Regions from separate parts of the Homo sapiens genome. Here region 1 is linked to region 2. The links come from fine-mapping of genetic effects on gene expression. A gene starts in region 2. The other region holds a variant in brackets. All regions are shown on one strand. Distances are between the middles of the regions. Region 1 overlaps TPCN2 (two pore segment channel 2). Region 2 holds the start of TPCN2 (two pore segment channel 2).

Region 1 (5,198 bases), 27 kb before region 2:
CACCCAAAGAGAAATAGAAGCAACTGAAACATCCACTGAGGCTGTAAGTAAACCATGTTGTGATATTAGAGTCACCTGAAACATACGCAAAGTGTCACCCTGATATATATAAAAAAAAAAAAAGCTGTGTGAAAAAACACAGGTAAGTGATATACTCATAGCTACAGAAACTCAGCACAGAACCAACTCCTGTACTGTGGCCAGCAGCAGCAGGAGGCAATGAGGGGCAGGCGGGCAGACGCTGCCACTGTCAGGACCCTTGTGAGACCCAGCACTTCCCACGCTCAGCAGCCTCCTTGAGACACGTCTGTGTGTGCAAGAGGTCAACAAGGGGAATGGCCTAAACATTTCTCAGCAAGGAGACCTGCACCCGCTGTCCCACACGGGAGCCACTGACCACCGGCGGCTATTTCATGAAAATTTCAATGCAACAAAATTCAACACTCAGTTCTTCGGTGGCAACAGCCACGTGTCAAGTACTCCACAGCCACATGTGACACGTGGCTACAGCTCATCCCCCCAGAAAGTCCATATGAAAATGGAGAGGGTAAGAAGACATGGCTGCGTGAACAGGCAGGCTGCAGAGTGAAAATCGCAATGCTTCATGTATACGTCAAAGAAGAACAAAGCAACTGTTTCCCCAGGTAACTACAAATGCCTGAAATTACACAGGGAAAAGTCTGGAAGGAAAACACCAAAATATCCAGTTGAATAGAGTGGCTATTCTCCAGTGAGACCCAAACTGGTGGTGCCAATGATCAGCGAACTTCCTCTCGGCTCCCGACATCCTCCTCGATACGCACTCTGCCACAACGGGCAGGGTCCCTTTCAGCGTCTCATCCACAGTGAACGGGAGTTGAGGCTTTCTTAGCGGAGGGGCTGGAGGGACACAGCAGGAGGGCAGGAGGGCAGGTGGAGGGACATGGCAGGAGGGCAGGTGAAGGGACACAGCAGGAGGGCAGGTGGAGGGACACGGCAGGAGGGCAAGTGGAGGGACATGGCAGGAGGGCAGGAGGGCAGGTGGAGGGACGTGGCAGGAGGGCAGGTGGAGGGACATGGCAGGAGGGCAGGTGGAGGGACATGGCAGGAGGGCAGGTGAAGGGACACGGCAGGAGGGCAGGTGGAGGGACACGGCAGGAGGGCAGGTGGAGGGACATGGCAGGAGGGCAGGAGGGCAAGTGGAGGGACATGGCAGGAGGGCAGGAGGGCAAGTGGAGGGACATGGCACGAGGGCAGGTGGAGGGACATGGCAGGAGGGCAGGAGGGCAGGTGGAGGGACGTGGCAGGAGGGCAGGTGGAGGGACATGGCAGGAGGGCAGGTGGAGGGACACAGCAGGAGGGCAGGTGGAGGGGCATGGCAGGAGGGCAAGTGGAGGGACATGGCAGGAGGGCAGGAGGGCAAGTGGAGGGACATGGCATGAGGGCAGGAGGGCAAGTGGAGGGACATGGCACGAGGGCAGGAGGGCAGGTGGAGGGACATGGCAGGAGGGCAGGTGGAGGGACACGGCAGGAGGGCAGGTGGAGGGACACAGCAGGAGGGCAGGTGGAGGGACACAGCAGGAGGGCAGGTGGAGGGACACGGCAGGAGGGCAGGTGGAGGGACACGGCAGGAGGGCAGGTGGAGGGACACGGCAGGAGGGCAGGTGGAGGGACACCGCAGGAGGGCAGGTGGAGGGACACGGCAGGAGGGCAGGTGGAGGGACAGAGCAGGAGGGCAGGTGGAGGGACAGAGCAGGAGGGCAGGCCTCCCCTGCGGTTTCCGGATGCTACGGGGTGGATCGGAGTGTGGTGTTAAGCACATCTGGACACGCTCTGTCCGAGACACATAGTCCCCAGGGGACCTACAGCCACAGCCTGACCTCCTGAAAATTTCCCAGCTTCCCACAGTCCTCAATGTGGAAACCAGTGCCCAAAGGCCACCTGCCCACACTGGCACCGAATTCCCTCGGCAGGACCACGCCACTGCCTGCTCACAGCCTGGGCCTGCTGCACCCAGGAGGGTCGCCTCCTGCTTACCCAGTGACCACAAACCAACCGCAGCCCGGGGAAGCCAGTGAACGTCTCTGCATTCCTGTGGGCAAAACCACACCTGCTCTCAAGAGGTCTGAACCCCAGCTTCGGAGGGTCCCCTTCCAGGTCCATCCTTCCTCATGCACTCCCCTCAGCCCAAGGACACCACATGGTTTCCTTACATCTTGCAGTTACTCTTTTATCGTAGTTGCCACTGCCGTACATGACACTTTCTGTTTAACCCAGACGGACACCTTGGCCAAGAGAGATTTCAGCATTATCTATTACGTCTAAATTGTTACAAGGAGAAGGTGTTCATATGTTAG[C/T]TGTGTAACTGAGAGATAACTGATATGACTAAAGTGCTTGTCTCTGGGTAGAAAGCCCGTGAGGTGGATTTTCCCACTTCCCTCTGTTGTCTATAATGAATGACCACTACATTTTTAACCCCAAAAGCTTCTCATATGAAGAGGAGACTTCTTTCAGCAGCAGGCAGGGCACCTTCTCTGAAGCTCGCCAGCAAGCACCAACCGACTCCCTGGCCACGGCCAGGCTGACGCCCAGGCAGTGACCCCACACGGGAGGGCTCTCGAAAAGGCTGGAGCTCCCATGACGTCAGCCTGCCGAGAAAGGACCTCTTTGTGCTTCCAAAACCACAGGCTGCCCCAAATCTGAGCAATCCCAGAAGCATCTGCCTCCCAAACTGAAGCTCTGCCAGCCCTTCACGTCAGCGGGCTCTGCGTCCGCAGACTGAACCAACTGCAGATCAAAACATACTCAGGGAAAAAGCATCTGTACGGAGCATGTACAGGTTTTCTTACCCTTATTCCCCAAACTCCCACTGCATTCCTAGGTGCTAGGTATTCCAAGTAGTCTAGAAATGACTTAAAGTATACGGAAGGATGTGTGTAGGTTACATGCAAACACTACATCATCTTAAGAGACTTAAACATCCATGGATTTTGTATCCACATGGAGTCCTAGAACCAATCCCTGCAGATACCGAGGGGCAACGGCCTCCCCTCTACAGTCAGCATTATTGAGGAAAGAAGGAGTCAGAAAACCAGATTAAGGCTATTGTGGCTCCCAAAACCTGTGGAACCTAAACTCCCATCTCAAAGCCCAGTGCTCGGTGCCCTGGGAAGAGCATCGCCGGGACCTCCAGGGAGACCACCAGGCTGGGAATCAGGCCAGGCCTGCGTGTTGGGCCTTCCCCACTCCTGTGCGCACACAAGCCCGCTCTACTGGGTCACGGCCAAAGCAATCCATCCGCCCTTCCTCCACATCATCACGGGAGGAGGAACCCCTTTCCAGGTCTCACCAAATCCTGACACTGGAAAAGGGTGGGAGAGTCAGCTCTGGACAACCAGGACTCAACCACGCCCTAGGGAACGGCAACAACTGCCCAGGGAGAGCCCAGATGGCCCAGAACACACCAGGAGCAAAGCCTGAGGAACAAAAACCACCTTTCCAGAACCTTTAGGATGACTGGCTTCTCCCAGCCTGTGTCTGCCTGCCCCTTTAGTCATATCAGTTATCTCTCAGTTACACAGCTAACATACGAACACCTTCTCCTTGTAACAATTTAGACATAATAGATAATGCTGAAATCTCTCTTGGCCAAGGTGTCCGTCTGGGTTAAACATGGGCCGGATCACAGCAAACCTAGCCTACGACAGCCGCTAAGAGCTGCTTCCTGAGCCCCAAACAGCTCCGCCCCTAGGACAAGCGCCTTTATCTAGAATGGTGCTTCTTAACTTTCTGTTATCTGAGGACCATCTCCACAGTTTCTGTGAAATCTGCACCTGGTAAAATTTATTTCGTATCTTCAAGTCAACCTTAAGTTGATAACGCATTGCCCAGCCTTGTCCCAAACAGAGGTTTGATGGCGTGAATATTCAAACTGCCACCTACTGATCCTCACCACACTCATCGCCCATATGCCCCAAGGGGCTGGGGGTGCCACAATGAGGAATGCAGCCCTAAAGAGGATGCCCGAAGTGAGGATGGGGACGAGTGCGTGGCACTCAAGCTCAGGCTGGGGCAGGGCCTGACTACAGAGGTCTGGAAGGACCTTAGGAAAACAATGTTTTTTAGAGAACCACCTCTGACAGGGTCCTGCAGCCACAGGGGCCGACAAGGAATCCTGAAGCAGCTGACAGTTGCTATGGGTTGAATTTTGTCTCCCTCGAAATTCGTATCTTTAACCTCTAACCCCCAGTAGCTCAGAATGTGACTATATTTGGAGACAGGGCCTTTTAAAAGGTAATTTAGTTAAAACAAGGCCATTAGAATGGGCCCTAATCCAATCTGAATAGGGTCCTTATAAGAGGAGGAGATGACACACAGAGGGATGACCACGTGAGGATACAGGGAGAAGGCGATGTCTACAGCCATGGAGAGAGGCCTCAGGTGAGGACACAGGGAGAGGCTGGCATCTACAAGCCACGGAGAGAGGCCTCAGGTGAGGACACAGGGAGAGGCTGGCATCTACAGGCCACGGAGAGAGGCCTCAGGTGAGGACATGGGGAAAGAACAGCACCTACAAGCCACTGAGAGGGGCCTCAGGAGGAACCAGCCCTGTGACACTTGGCCTTGGACTGACGGCCAGGACTGTGAGATAACAAATGTCTGCTGCTTCAGCCCTGCCCCCGCCCCAGTCTGTGGTGCCGTCCCAGGAGCCTGAGCAAACGAGAAAAGTGACACAGAACTGGCAGGCGTCTGCCACCCCACCTCTCTGCCCCATCCCTGTTCCAGGGTCTGGCTCAGTCCTCTGAGGCTGAGCAGCTGGAATGGCAGCCCCCGTGCTGCCCCCACACTGCCTGTGAGCACCTGGGCTGTTTCCCACTGTCTCCACCCACCTGGCCCAGGCCTTCTGGACACAGAGCTTAGTCGGATGCTGAGGCCCACCTGGGAACTTTGTAAGTGTCAAGGGTGAAAGGCAAAGGCCTTGGAGAGGACCAGTGTGTGGACCTCCTGAGGAAGGACAGACAGGAAAAGGAGAGTCTGTCATGGAAACCGAGAAGACCATTTGGAAGACTCCTTCATGTCGGGCTGGGCTCAGGCTAGTTCCTGGGGTCTGGTGAATTTCATAAAAATCTCCCCAGTCTCCAAGAGCCAAAGAGAACTCCATTCCCAGTTCCCATACTAGGAGCCAGGATCCCTGGCAGGTGAATCCCAGCACTGATCAT
Region 2 (5,182 bases):
ATCCTCTGTGACCCTGGGCAAGTCCCTTAACCTCTAGGTGCTCCAGGTCCTCATGGACCCCCACCCAATAGGAGCTAAGTACAGACTGAATGACTTACTATAGCCAGAGTACTTTGCTAAGTGAGCCCTTCATAAGCATTCAGTTACTCTGAAAGCCTCTACAGCATCGCAATCCCTTGTCCTCTGACTTGTTTGATAACCAGTAAAAGTGTGATTTTTCTGACCCAGCAACAAGAGAAAACAACTGTTCTCAACCTTTGACCCCGGCCCCATCAGGTGGGGCCAAGTCAAAACGACCCAACAGCAGGGTCCACTGGGGTCCTTGGGGCACCCACAGCAGCAGCCCTCACCACAACCCGTTGGCAAGAGACCAACCACAGGACTTGCAAACCAGAGCACAGGGCCTTCATTTCAAAGCCTGGCACAGGCCTCAGCACAGAGACTGAATGAGCCTTTCGGAGTCTCCATGGCTCCATAGTCTGCCAGTCCTTGCTGGGGACCCTGGCCAAGGGGATTCAGAACACAGAGCGTCCTGTCCACGTTCTCAGAAGCCCTGGCTGAGGCCACAGCATAGGGACAAAGAGCGCTCCCCGAGAGCCTCCTCTTGTCAGCCACACTGCCCAGCAGAGCGGGTCTCACCTGCCAGGGAGGACCTGCAATGATCACAGAGCTTACCCAGGACGGCCACTGGCCCCCACACCAGCCCGCCGGGCCCTGTGCTGAGGACAAACTCTGGATTCTCTCTGAATCCTCACAATGCCCGCCAGGCAGTCCTTAGTATTATCTCCCTTTTACTGAGATTCGGAAAGGTGAAGCATGGCCAGGCACAGTGGCTCACGCCTGTAATCCCACCACTTTGGGAGGCCGAGGCAGGCAGATCACCCGAGGTCAGGAGTTTGAGACCACCCTGGCCAACACAGTGAAACCCCATCTCTACTAAAAATACAAAAATTAGCCAAGTGTGGTGGCGGGCGCCTGCAGTCCCAGCTACTTGGGAGGCTGAGGCGGGAGAATCGCTTCAACCCAGCAGAGGTAGAGGCTGCAGTGAGCCGAGATCACGCCACTGCACTCCAGCCTGGGTGACAGAGTGATACTCCATCTCAAAAAAGAAACAGAAAGGTTAAGCAACCTGCCAAGGTCACACAGCCAGTGCAGCCCCAGAAAGGCGCCCAGACCCCTAGACACAAAGTCTGTGTTCCCTGAACGGTGCCATATGCTGGGCGTCTCATCAAGGGGCCTGCCAGAGCTGCTCCCTGCAGATCTCCTTCCTGACTGGTCCCAGGAAGCACCTGAAGAACTTCCTGGAGGCAGCTTCTGAGGTGAGCAGACAGGGTGGCCACCTTGGCCTCTGGTTTTTCATCTCTCGTCAGGGTCCCCTCCTTGGCCCCTCATTACTCCATGGATGGGCACATGCCACAGACCAGTGGGTGGGCACCAGGATTCCAACCCAGTTCCTTCCAGACAGAGGAGGAAAGAAGGAAAGAGAGGCCAGAGAGGGAAGGAGCCAGGTGTGAATTCTCAGAGTGGTTCGAGCAGCAGCCGCACCAGAACAGAGGGCTGTGACCTTGGGCAGGTCTCAGGGCCTCTCTGGGCCTCAGTTTCCTCATCTGTGAAGTGAAGCTAAGGTCCTTCCACCTCTTAATCCAGAATCTCATTCCCCTGGTGTCAGCGAGGGGCGGACGCACCCCACCCTCGGGGGGCGGATTCAGCAATCTTCAGACCAGGACAAAAAACGGGAAGGGCAGGAGGGAGTGCAGAGGGGACTCTGGGGTGGCAGAGGGCAAGGAGAGGAAGCCGCCCCCGTCTAGGGGGCCCGCCCCAGCCCCACGGGAAGTGGGACGGGGAAAGGCACCCTACAAAGAAAGGACTCCTAGCTCCCAACTGGTTCGAATCCCACCTCGGCCACTTACTGGGTGTGTGACCTTGGGTAGGGTAACGCCTCTCTGTGAGCCTCTGCTTTTTCCAGAAGAAACGGGAAAAATCAAAGTGCTGCCTTCTCTGAGTCAATTAGGCGACCCTCATTACGGCGACAGTCGGGAAGTATGGGGTCTGGGCCCGCCCGGGCACACGGAGGGTGCCTGCCGCAGGTGGCCGGTTCCCTCGGGGCTGCCCAAGGCTGGGCGAGGGCCTCTTCGCCCAGCTGGTCGGGATCAGGACGCGACACGGAAGAGACCCCAGCTCTGCCCTGACCCCGGTCCGGGTCCGCAGGACGCAGCCCACTCGCCCTCAGAACACCGGCTCGCCTGGCACCCGGCGCGGCCCGGGCCCCGCTCGGACTCGAACCTGGTGGGGGCGCGCCCGGCAGAAAGCGGGGTGCTGGGACAGCGGGACCCCCACGCGCGACCCTGGTCTCCCGGGCCAGTCCCCTCCCCAGGTCCGGGCGGCTCACCAGGGCCGACTTGGATGCTGCGGTAAGTGGTCAGCCCCGCCGGCCAGTCGCCGCCACCGCCGCGGGCCCCGCCCAGCAGGGGCTCCGACTCCGCCTGGGGTTCCGCCATCCAGCAGCCCACGCGCTGGACCCGACCCTCAGAAGCTCAAGCCCCGAAGGCGCCCAGCTTCACTGCGCAGGCGCGGAGACCCCGTCCCTGGCGTTTTTGCTGACGCGCGCACGGCACTGTGGCGCAGGGGATCCCTGCAGTCCCAGCCAATGAGAACGGGGAGGGAGGGGTGGGGTTCTCCTGAGTGGGGCGGAGCTAAAGGGCCCCGCCCCTCTAGGGTGGAGCTCAGCTTCGTTCCACCCAGGGCGGGGCAGCGTTCTGGGGCTTAAGGGCCGAGGGCTGGGGAGGAAATATGTTCTCAAAGGATGTCTTTCCGGCCAGAAGCTTCAGCATCACCTGGAAACATTTTAGAAATGCAAATTCTTGGGCCCTTAAACCTACTAAATCAGCAACTCTGCGGGGAGGACCCAGGAATCTGTGTTTTAACAAGCATTCGGGGTGATTCTGATGCATGTGAGTATTGAGTACACGGGGTGACTGCAAAGGACTCCCCCCAGAATGGAACTGGAGTTTACCCTCTGATGGTGAAATTAGGAGGATTCAATATCATTAAGGGAAAAGTTTAAAAACATATGACACACTTAAAAAATATTTACAACGTATATAAAAAGTGTTTTCAACATTAATGCATAAAGACCTTGTATTCGTTTTCTATTGCTACAGTGACTAATTACCACAATCTGAAAATATAAAATAACTCCCATTCATCATCTTTCAGTCCTGCGGGGCAGGAAACCTCCTGTCTCAGGGCCTCACGAGGCTAGAGTCAAAATGTCAGCTGCCGTGGGCTCTTATCTGCAGACTCTGGGGAAAGCCCACTTCCAGGCTCATCCAGGATGTTAACAGAATTGTCTCCATGGGCCTAGGACTGAAGTCCACGTCTTCTTGCTGGATGTTGGCTGGTGTCATTCTCACTCCTAGAGGCCACTGCATTCCTTCCACGATGGCTTGAACACCTCCATCATCAGAGCCAGCAAGCAAGAGCACGCTGAAGACGCTTCGAGATGCAGCAAGACGCCTGTAATCCCAGCCCTTTGGGAGACCGAGGCAGGTGGATCACGAGGTCAGGAGATCGAGACCATCCTGGCCAACATGGTGAAGCCCCGTCTCTACTGAAATACAAAAAGTTAGCCAGACGTGGTGGCACGTGTCTATAGTCCCAGCTACTCGGAGGCTGAGGCAGGGGAATCGCTTGAACCCGGGAGGCGGAAATTGCAGTGAGCTGAGATTGCGCCACTGCACTCCAGCCTGGCAACAGAGCGAGACTCCATCTCAAAAAAAAAGGTGCTGCAAGACGCTTCCAATCTCTGTGACTTCCCCTTCTGCCATACCTCTTTACTTTTTCCCCCTCTTTTGGGGAGGGGGGAGGGTTTAAAATAAATATAAAATTTACCATCATAACTGTGAAAGGAAAATAAATCTCAGGACTCCAAAATCACTAAGCCAAAGGGAAAAGTCAAGCTGGGAACTGCGTTGGGCAAACTGCCTCGCCTTTTCTTCTTTAATAAAATAGCTACGAAGATTTAAAAAGCTACATACCTCCCTCACAATTTGCCCGCTAGGAAATTTTTCGTGGGCACCCAAGATCTTTACCCTAAAACAGTTTTGTTGAATTTTACCCTAACAATGTACATTGACAACTGATCTTCACAGGTTCCAAACAAAGGATGGAACTCTAAGTCATCCCTCTGCTCACCTGATTGCTTCCTCTGGTATAAAAGTGCAGATTCACCGAGCCAGACTAAGGCATAAGTGACTATTCCTCTACCCCCGCAACCTGTAAATTGTGTATTTCAGTGAAAGTCTGATCAAAGACTCACAAGAATGCAACCTTTGTCTCTTATCTCTCCACATATTTTTAAAATTTCTCCCTCTTTCCCAATATCCACCCTTTCCCTTTTTTTTTTTTTTTTTTTTTTTTGAGACAGAGTCTTGCTTCGTTGCCCAGGCTAGAGTGCAGTGGTGCGATCTCAGGTCACTCAGCAACCTCCGCCACAGCACCTGGCCAGTTTCCCCTTTAAATATTGAAGTCCTACAAATCATCCTTGAAGGAAGGCATAGACCTGCCTCCCAGGCACTCCTTAACCTTGGCAAAATAAACTTACTAAATAGATCGAGACCTGTCTCAGATATTTTTAGTTCACATAACTATATTGAAGTGTACAGCTCATTGATATTAAATATATTAATGATGCTATACAACTATCACCTCCAACTCCAGAACTCTTTTTATCTTGCAAAACTGAAATTCTGGACCCATTAAGCACTGACTCCTCATTCCCTCAGCCCCTGGAAACCACCATTCTCCTTTCTATCCCTAAGATTTTGGCGACTCTAGGTTCCTCATTTAAGTGGAATCCTGCAGTATTTGTTCTTTTGTGACTGGCTTATGTCATTTAGCCTAAAATCCTCAAGGTTCATCCATGTAGCATGTGTCCAAATTTCCTTCCTTTTTAAAGCTGAATAATACTCCACTGTATGTATCCATGACATTTTGCTTATCCAGTCATCCATGGATGGGCACTGGGTTGCTTCCACCTTTTGACTATTGTGAATAATGCTGCTGTGAACATGAGTGTACAAATAATTCGTCAAGACTCTGCTTTCAGGCCAGGTACAGTGGCTCATGCCTGTAATCCCAGCACTTTGGGAGACCAAGGCAGGCGGATCACCTGAGGTCAGGA

What was found. PIP is the estimated chance that this variant, and not a neighbour inherited with it, causes the effect.
Region 1: its variant is fine-mapped to the expression of TPCN2 in fibroblasts (GTEx, PIP 0.95).

Annotation. Positions count from the first base shown.
Region 1 is chr11:69,073,085-69,078,282 of GRCh38, reverse strand. All of the region lies in intron 13 of TPCN2 (two pore segment channel 2), which reads right to left. Among named protein-coding and RNA genes, the nearest start is that of MIR3164, 7.5 kb to the left of the region's middle. The variant C/T (reference allele first, on the strand shown) is at 2,337.
Region 2 is chr11:69,046,314-69,051,495 of GRCh38, reverse strand. It overlaps TPCN2 (two pore segment channel 2), which reads right to left and starts at 2,564. Exons shown (of 25, transcript NM_139075.4): 1 at 2,390-2,564. The coding sequence starts at 2,498. RefSeq lists an enhancer at 1-160 and silencers at 2,137-2,236, 2,317-2,486, 2,607-2,826.